Homo sapiens: one gene and its partner. The protein of the gene in region 2 purifies or fractionates together with the protein of the main gene of each other region. This does not show direct contact. Each region holds a gene or a part of one and is shown on either strand. Other genes may lie near its edges.

The links.
Region 1: the proteins of LAIR1 (region 2) and ABCC2 purify together in Homo sapiens (affinity purification with mass spectrometry; one large-scale study listed by BioGRID and IntAct). This does not show direct contact.

What each region holds. Positions count from the first base shown.
Region 1 is NC_000010.11:99,841,403-99,845,218, reverse strand, and holds part of ABCC2 (ATP-binding cassette sub-family C member 2), read right to left. Parts: intron 3,253-3,816; coding exon 3,126-3,252; intron 1,421-3,125; coding exon 1,319-1,420; intron 898-1,318; coding exon 754-897; intron 1-753. UniProt on the Homo sapiens protein: ATP-dependent transporter of the ATP-binding cassette (ABC) family that binds and hydrolyzes ATP to enable active transport of various substrates including many drugs, toxicants and endogenous compound across cell membranes.
Region 2 is NC_000019.10:54,362,672-54,366,587, forward strand, and holds the start of LAIR1 (leukocyte-associated immunoglobulin-like receptor 1 isoform a precursor), read right to left. Parts: upstream 2,261-3,916; 5' UTR 2,134-2,260; coding exon 2,100-2,133; intron 1,816-2,099; exon of another isoform or gene 1,660-1,815; coding exon 1,624-1,659; intron 1-1,623. UniProt on the Homo sapiens protein: Functions as an inhibitory receptor that plays a constitutive negative regulatory role on cytolytic function of natural killer (NK) cells, B-cells and T-cells.

The DNA of each region.
Region 1 (3,816 bases), on a different chromosome or scaffold from region 2:
TCTACTAAAAATACAAAAAAAATTAGCCAGACATGGTGGCGTGCACCTGTAGTCCCAGCTACTTGGGAGTCTGAGTCAGAAAAATCACTTGAACCCAGGAAGCAGAGGTTGCAGTGAGCCAAGATTGTGCCACTGCACTCCAGCCTGGGTGATAGAGTGAGACTCCATCTGAAAATAAATAAATAAATAAATAAAAATAAAGAAAAAAGAAAAATGCTTGTTTAGAAGTGAAGAAGGGAAAGATTAGGTCTGCCACCAGCTGAGAGCCAGACTCTGATCTGGACCTCAGCGTCCTTGCTCATCAGACCCCAAGTCCTCGGAGAACAACAGCACCTAAGGAGGGTGCCTGACTTTGAAGACTGGGAGGAGAACTGGGCCATTCTTCCTTCAGGGACAACCTCCACACTGCTATTCTCAACAGTTCCTTCACCAGGCCTGGCCGCCCCCTTGTTTCCTTCCTGACTTCCTCTCTGCATACTGTGGACCTTATAGGAAAGGGGCCCTGGTCAGCTGGCTAGGAGGCAGGGAGGAGCTGAGCAGAAGGCCCCGACAGCTGCGGTAAGTCTGTGTGATCCCTGGCTGCTATCCTTCCCTCTGATACTGTGTCCCCACACCTCCCCAGGGCAGAGGAAGTGCCCTGACCCTTTCCCTCCATCCAAATGATGAAGGCTTAGGGCCCAGCTGCTCTCCACTCTGTCCAATTGTTGTTTGATCACAAGGCCTCCCATCCAGGCCTTCCTTCACTCCACCTACCTTCTCCATGCTACCGATGTCACAAGTGATCCCTCTGAGGACCAGATCCAGCTCAGGTCGGTACCGCACTTGGTAGTTGTTAAACTGGATCTTGCCTTTGCTGGGCCAATCTGGCGGAGGCCTCTTATCAGTCACCCAGGGTGCCTGGCAAGGAGACAAGATGAGAAGTAAGTTTTATAAGGTGGCAACTCAGCCGAACAGTCCACCCAGGACTCGTGTCATAGAACAGGAGAAGGGTAGCAGTGTCCCAGCTACCTAATGGCCTCTGCATTTAATAGGCTGAACTAGACTTGCACTTTTGGAAAGTTCCTACCTTATTCAGTTAAAGAAAAATACACCATGAGCTTGTGCTGTAGATCTCCTCGGTATGTTGCAAGACCCGACATCCCCTAAACCATTTCCTATTCTAAGTTTGAAGAAATTAGGTCCTTTGAGTTAGAGGAAAGGAAACTTTAGGGACCCATTATGGGCCCATGTAAAATATGGAGAAATTCTAAAGATGCACTCTCGAAGGAGTTGCATGTTGTTTTTGCCTTGTTCCTGGATTTTTCCAGTTCCTCCTTACCTCATTTTCCACTTTTGTGTACTCAGTTATTCGCTCAACAGCCACAATGTTGGTCTCTATTTCTGATGTCATCCTCACCAGCCAGTTCAGGGTTTGTGTGATCTACAGAAAAACCAGAAGACTGAAAATCATCATAGGCACAGAAACCAACTCAACCACTCAAACCACAAGGACAATCCAGTGCCGACTTTGTACCCAGCACTGTGCTGGACTCTACAAGGGAGTAAGGAAAAGTGTAAGAAAGACAATCCTTGCCTCCTTGGGGAAGGAATTAAGAGCAGTGCATTGAATGGCTGCAGACTAATTAGGTGCTCACGCGAAGGGCAATGTGAGTGTCTAGTGGTTTGGGACTAAAGCTGGAATTTGAGAGTCTGGCAATGGGTGGAGTGGGAGCAGAGCTCAGGCCTCCTGCCTGGATGCCTAGTGTTCTTTGTGAATCAGGGAAAGGCATGATCCAGGCCAGGGAATCTGTAGATTACTCAGATGCAAACTTCTTTCAGAAAAAGACTCAGGAGTTTGCATATATGCACAGAGAGTTCTTGTTGAGCAAATGGTGGTTAAAGAAAGGGAGCCACAGAAAGCAGAGGACGGAATCATGGGGACTCAGAGTATCCACTTTGTGTAGATTGAAGCATATGTAATTGCCGGTGTTTGAGTCATTTTGTTTTGGTTCAATCTAATAGTTTCCTGACTATTTGCCTTGTCTGTCCTGGGCTAAAAAGCCTAGAAATGGGGGTATGAAAGGGCAGTGACACAAGGAACTAAGTGACTCTAGTGAATAACAAAGTCCTTTTAGGTGCCCTGGCAGGAACACATTGGGCCTTATTAACTTCTTTTTTTTTTTTTTTGAGATGGAATCTTGCTCTGTTGCCCAGGCTGGAGTGCAATGGCACGATCTTGGCTCACTACAACCTCTGCCTCCTGGGTTCAAGTGATTCTCCTGCCTCAGCCTCCCCAGTAGCTGGGATTACAGACACTCATCACCATGCCTGGCTAATTTTTTTTGTATTTTTAGTAGAGATGGGGTTTCACCATGTTGGCCAGGCTGGTCTCAAACTCCTGACCTCAGGTGATCCACCCACTTTGGCCTCCCAAAGTGCTGGGATTACAGGTGTCAGCCACTGTGCTCCACAGGCCTTATTAACTTCTAATGAAGACAGCACTATTATATAATGCCCACATGTAACTATGCAAATCTCTTTGAACTAAAAAAATTAGTTCAAAAAGATGGTCAAATGACTCATTTATAACAAATATTGATTGAATAATTACGGTAGTGCCAGCCACTGTCTTAGGTGCTAGAAAAGAATCATGCCTGCCATGTATCCTCTAGTCATGCTGGGGATGCTGCAGTGAGACACATTCTATAGTTTTATCAGACTCTATGTTCTTTATTAGAATTACCTCCAATTATTCTACGATCTAAGAAAAATAAACACAGGAGGAATTATTTGTTCAAAAAGCCTTTCTGATTACTGCTACGTTCTAGAGAAGAAAGTTATTTATTCTCTCACTAGAACCAAGCAAAGAGGCAGACAGGGAACAATTAGATTGAAACATATGAAATTGCCTTCTTAAGCCCTAAGGTCAATATTTATGTCCAGTTTTCTAGATGGCATTCATGTCTACTTAGGAAGAGTAAGGAATACGTCCATGGGTAAAAGATGGAGCCAGGGTTTGAACCTCAGTCTTCTTTAGTCCCTCTGGGTTTAAGAAGGAATCAAGAGCACAGACTCCACAGTATACATCAGGCTTAATTTAAGAATAAGCACACTAACGAAACCAAACTCCCAACCTTCAAACTCACATTGAGTGCATTGGACAGAACAAAGCCAACAGTGTCCCCACTTAGGGTATCTCTATAAATAACCATCATCAAGGCTGAAAAGAAGACAGTCAGGTTCCCAACCAGCTCCAGGCGAATTGCAAGCCACCTGTGGGGCAACAGAACCAGAGAGTGCGTGTCACTGATCACGTCCTCATCTTAACCAGCAACCTTGGCGTTCACAGAACATTCTCAGAGGGTTTGACTTGATCGGGCCGCACTCTTAGGCAATGCCTCAATTTGACTTAGAAACACCATGTATTCCTAAAAGCCTATTGATATATTTTTTAAGAAAATAAATTGCATTTTAAAGATCCTAGAGGTCTTTGCTGAACTAAGGGAATCCTACAGTGCAATGTCTACCAAACTCGCCAAATCATAAGAATCACCTAGGGCAACTGTTAATATACAATGTTACAAATTCATGTGGAAAATTCCTGGACCCTTTCCTTTAAGATTCTGATTTCAGGGGGCCTAGGATGGGATTCAAGAATCTGCATTTTTTTTTGTTTTTGTTTTATGAGACAAGGTCTTGCTCTGTCACCAAGGCTAGAGTGCAGTGGCGTGATCATGGCTCACTGCAGCCTCGACCTCCCGGGCTCAAGCCATCCTCCTACCTCAACCTCCCAAGTAGCTGGAACTATAGGTGCACACCACTACACCCAGCTAATTT
Region 2 (3,916 bases):
ACGGGGTTTCCCCCATGTTGTCCAGGCTGGTCTCAAACTTCTGACCTCAAGTGATCCACCCACCTCCGCCTCCCAAAGTGCTGGGATTACAGATGTGAGCCACCGCACCCAGCCTCATTGGTCATTTTTAAAATGAATTATTTTTTTTCAAAATCAGCATGTGAGAAGAACCACCATATTGAGCGGCATATGGAGTGTTTGAGAAAGCGAAAGAACCTGGAGGAATGTAGAGATGAGTGAGCCCCAGGTCACAGGGACAGGATGTGGCTGGGAAAATGGGCATGTCCAGACCAAAGAGAGGTGCACAGGTCTGATTCTATCTGAAGATAAACAGGGGAAGGGCTCTGAGAAAAAAAAAAAAAGATTTCATCTTACGATGAGATATTAAATGAAAATTTTTGAATACAATTTAAAAACTGTGGAAAGTACAATGGTCATGGTTGTGCTTTTGCAAATCGCCAGTCCCTGGGGTCAGGAAGGGAGCAGGCAGCAGTGGCATGGACAGGCTGAGGCCGGCCTCGGGGAGCCACGGAGGGGAGAGGGGCTGTCACCTGGGGGTGATGCAGGAAAAGTCGATGAAGAGAGAGGGAAAGATGAGAAAAATTTAGAGTGAAATCACCAGGACTGGGTGACATGGTGCATCCAGGAGGATGGAGAAGAGGATGAGTGTTCAGAGTCTGCCCTTTGTGACTGTCATGTTCCCCGCCAAGAAGCTGCCGAGTGAAGTGTGGGCTCGTCTGGGGAAAAGTGCCGGGCTCAGCCTTGGTTGTGTTGGGTTTGAATTCTCATTGTGGAAATCGGTGTGCGGAGCTGACGCCTGCACTCCCAGGGTGACCGCAGCACTACTCACAGCCGCCAAGACCTGGCAAGAACCTGAGTGCCCACCGCCAAATGAATGGATGAGGAGAATGTGCTGTGTATATGCAATGGAATATTATTCAGCCCTAAAAAAGGAAGGACATTCTGTCATTCGCAACAACATGGATGAACCAGAGGACGTTAGGCTAAGTGAAATAAGCCGGGCACAGAAAGACAATTACTGCGCGTTCTCACTTATCTGTGGAATCTAAGAAAAGTTGATCACCCGGAAGCAGAGTAGAATGGTGGTTATTGGAGGCTGCAGGTGCGGGGCATGGGAGAGACACTGATCAAATGATACAAAGTTTCGAGTAGCCAGGACGAGTGAATTTTTCAGATCTATGGCACAGCAGAATGACAGTAGTTCATAATAATTTATTGTATATTTCAAAATTGCTAAAAGGAGATTTAAAATATTCTCATCACAATAAGTATGTGATGGGGCTGATATGTTAATCAGCTTTATTTAATCTTTCCACAATGTGTACATACGTCATAATATCACACTGTACCCCGCAAATTGCAATTATTTGTCAATTAAAAATAAAATTTTTGAAAATAAGAAAAGCAAAATAAGACAGGTGGAGGATGCGAGAGAGAACTGGGTGAGGGTTGGTTATGCATTTTACATTTGGAAGAGTTTGCAATCTAGGGTATATTTAAAGGGATCTCTCCAGGCCCTCTAAGAATCAACATCACTCCCACCCAGCACTGCCCTTGGGGTGACAGAGGGGACTGGGAAGATGGGACGAAGGCATGACTTACCCTCCTGCGTGTGGATGGTCTGGGCCAGGCAGAGCACTGGAAGAGAAGCCCCAGTGAGAAAAATGCCCAGTGCCCAGTCTCCTTACGGGGCTGCTGTCAAAAGGGGGCTCGATGGAGCTGGGGGGCATTCAGCATTTCATAACGACCAAGCCAACCCTCCTCGACATCACTGTCTCCATGTAATCCTTCTTGCTGCAAAATGGTTTCAAGATAAATCCCAAAGTCTCCTCCTCCAAAAAGGCTCCTGCTCCCCCAGCCCTTCTTAAAGCTGACCTCATCCCCACACCCGGGCCCCTGTTTTTAGGACAAGATCTTCTCTGATCAGACTTAGGCCCCAGGGAGAGCAGCAGGGCAGTCTTGGGAGGAGGAGGACACTTTCCTCCCCAGAATCTTCTGGACTAGAGTCAGGCTTGAGCAGGGAATTTTCCAGACCTCCCGACCCCCTTTCCAGCCTCCCGGCTGCCTCCAGGACTCACCTAGGCCCAGGAGGGCGGTGGGGTGGGGAGACATGGCCCAGGTCCCAGCAGTGCAGCCTGGCCTGAGGCGCACCAATGCAAGGACAGAACTCTGCAGCAGACACAAGCAGACAGGATGTGCTGCCCGGGGGCCTCCTGCCTATGGGGCTTCCACAGCAACTGCCTCACACAAGAGGAAGAGCTTTCTGTCCTGTTCTTTCCACCCTTCCCACTAGTGAGACGAGAGGGAGGGCCTTGGTTTCTGAAAAATGTCGCTTACCCTAAATGTCGCTTAGAGGCAGATGACCGTAAACTAGTTACCAGATGTGTCAGCCTCTTTCTAAATCTATGGGACAAGGCAGAATAAAGGTCGGGCAACCAATTGACTTGGACGCCGTCCCAACTCCACAAGTTAACGGTCGCAGCTCTTGGGCAAGACGTTACAAAACTAGAAGCTGACATTTCCTTGTATTACAAATGGGAGCCATAGAAATCCTTCCCCAAGTTTTTAATATTGTGATCTATGCTAAAATCCCGACAAGGTATTTAACACGTTAAAAATATCCTACAAAGCATATTATTTTTTTAAGGAGACTATTGGTGAGGATGTGGAGAAACTGGATCCCTCGCATACCACAGTAGGAATTAAAAATTGGGCAATCACTATAGAGAACAGTGGGGAGGTTCCTCAAAAAATTAAAAATAGAGCTACCATATGGTCCAGCAATCCCACTTCTGGGTCTGTATTTAAAAGAAACAGGCCAGGCGCAGTGGCTCACAGCTGTAATCCCAGCACTTCGGGAGGCCGGGGTGGGTGGATCACCTGAGGCCATAAATTCGAGACCAGCCTGGCCAACATAGTGAAACCCTGTCTCTACTAAAAATACAAAAAATTAGCTGGGTGTGGTGGTGGGCACAGCTACTTGGAAGGTTGAGGCAGGAGAATCGCTTGAACCCAGAAGGCAGGGGTTGCAGTGAGCTGAGATTGCACCATTGCCCTCCAGCCTGGGCAACAACAGCAAGACTCTGTCTAAAAAAAAAAAAAAAATCAGTATGTCAAAGAGCCGTCTGAACTCCCCTGATCACTGCAGCACTATTCGCAATAGCTAAGACGTGAAAACCATCTAAATGTCCATTGATAGAATAATTGATATAGAAAATGTGGTGCACACACAGGGGAATACTATTCAGCCTTAAACAAGGAAGAAAATTCTGCCATGGGCGACAACACGGACGAAACCTGAGGACATCACGCCAAGCGACGCAGAGGCAGAGACCAAGTACTGCATGATGTCACTTACAGGAGATCTGCAAAGTCACCAGAGTCACAACATCACAGCAGGGAATGGTGGTTACGGGGGCTGGGAGGAGGGGGAAATGGGGAGTTATTAACAAACAGGCCTAGAGATCTGCTGCACCACATACGACCCATCGTCAGCAATAACGTCTTGTTCACTTGAAATTTGTTAACGGAATAGACCTCATGTTATTTGGAGGGCCCGGAGGAAGACAGGAAGAGAAGGGAATGTTTGAAACTTCTTAGAGATGGATTAAATGGTTGTGACCAAAATGCTGATAGTGATGTGAACAGCGAAGTCCAGGCTGACAAGGTCTCAGCTGGAAATAAGGATCTTACTTGGAACTAGAGCGAAAGCCACCTTTGTTACGCCTTAGCAAACAACGTGGCTGCATTCTGTCCATGCCCTAGAGATACCACGCCAGGGTGTCTGGCGGAAGAAATTTCTTTTCTTTTTTTTTAAACGGAGTCTCGCTCTGTTGCCCAGGCTGGAGTGAAGCAGTGCGATCTCGGCTCCCTGCAACCTCTGCCTCCCAGATTC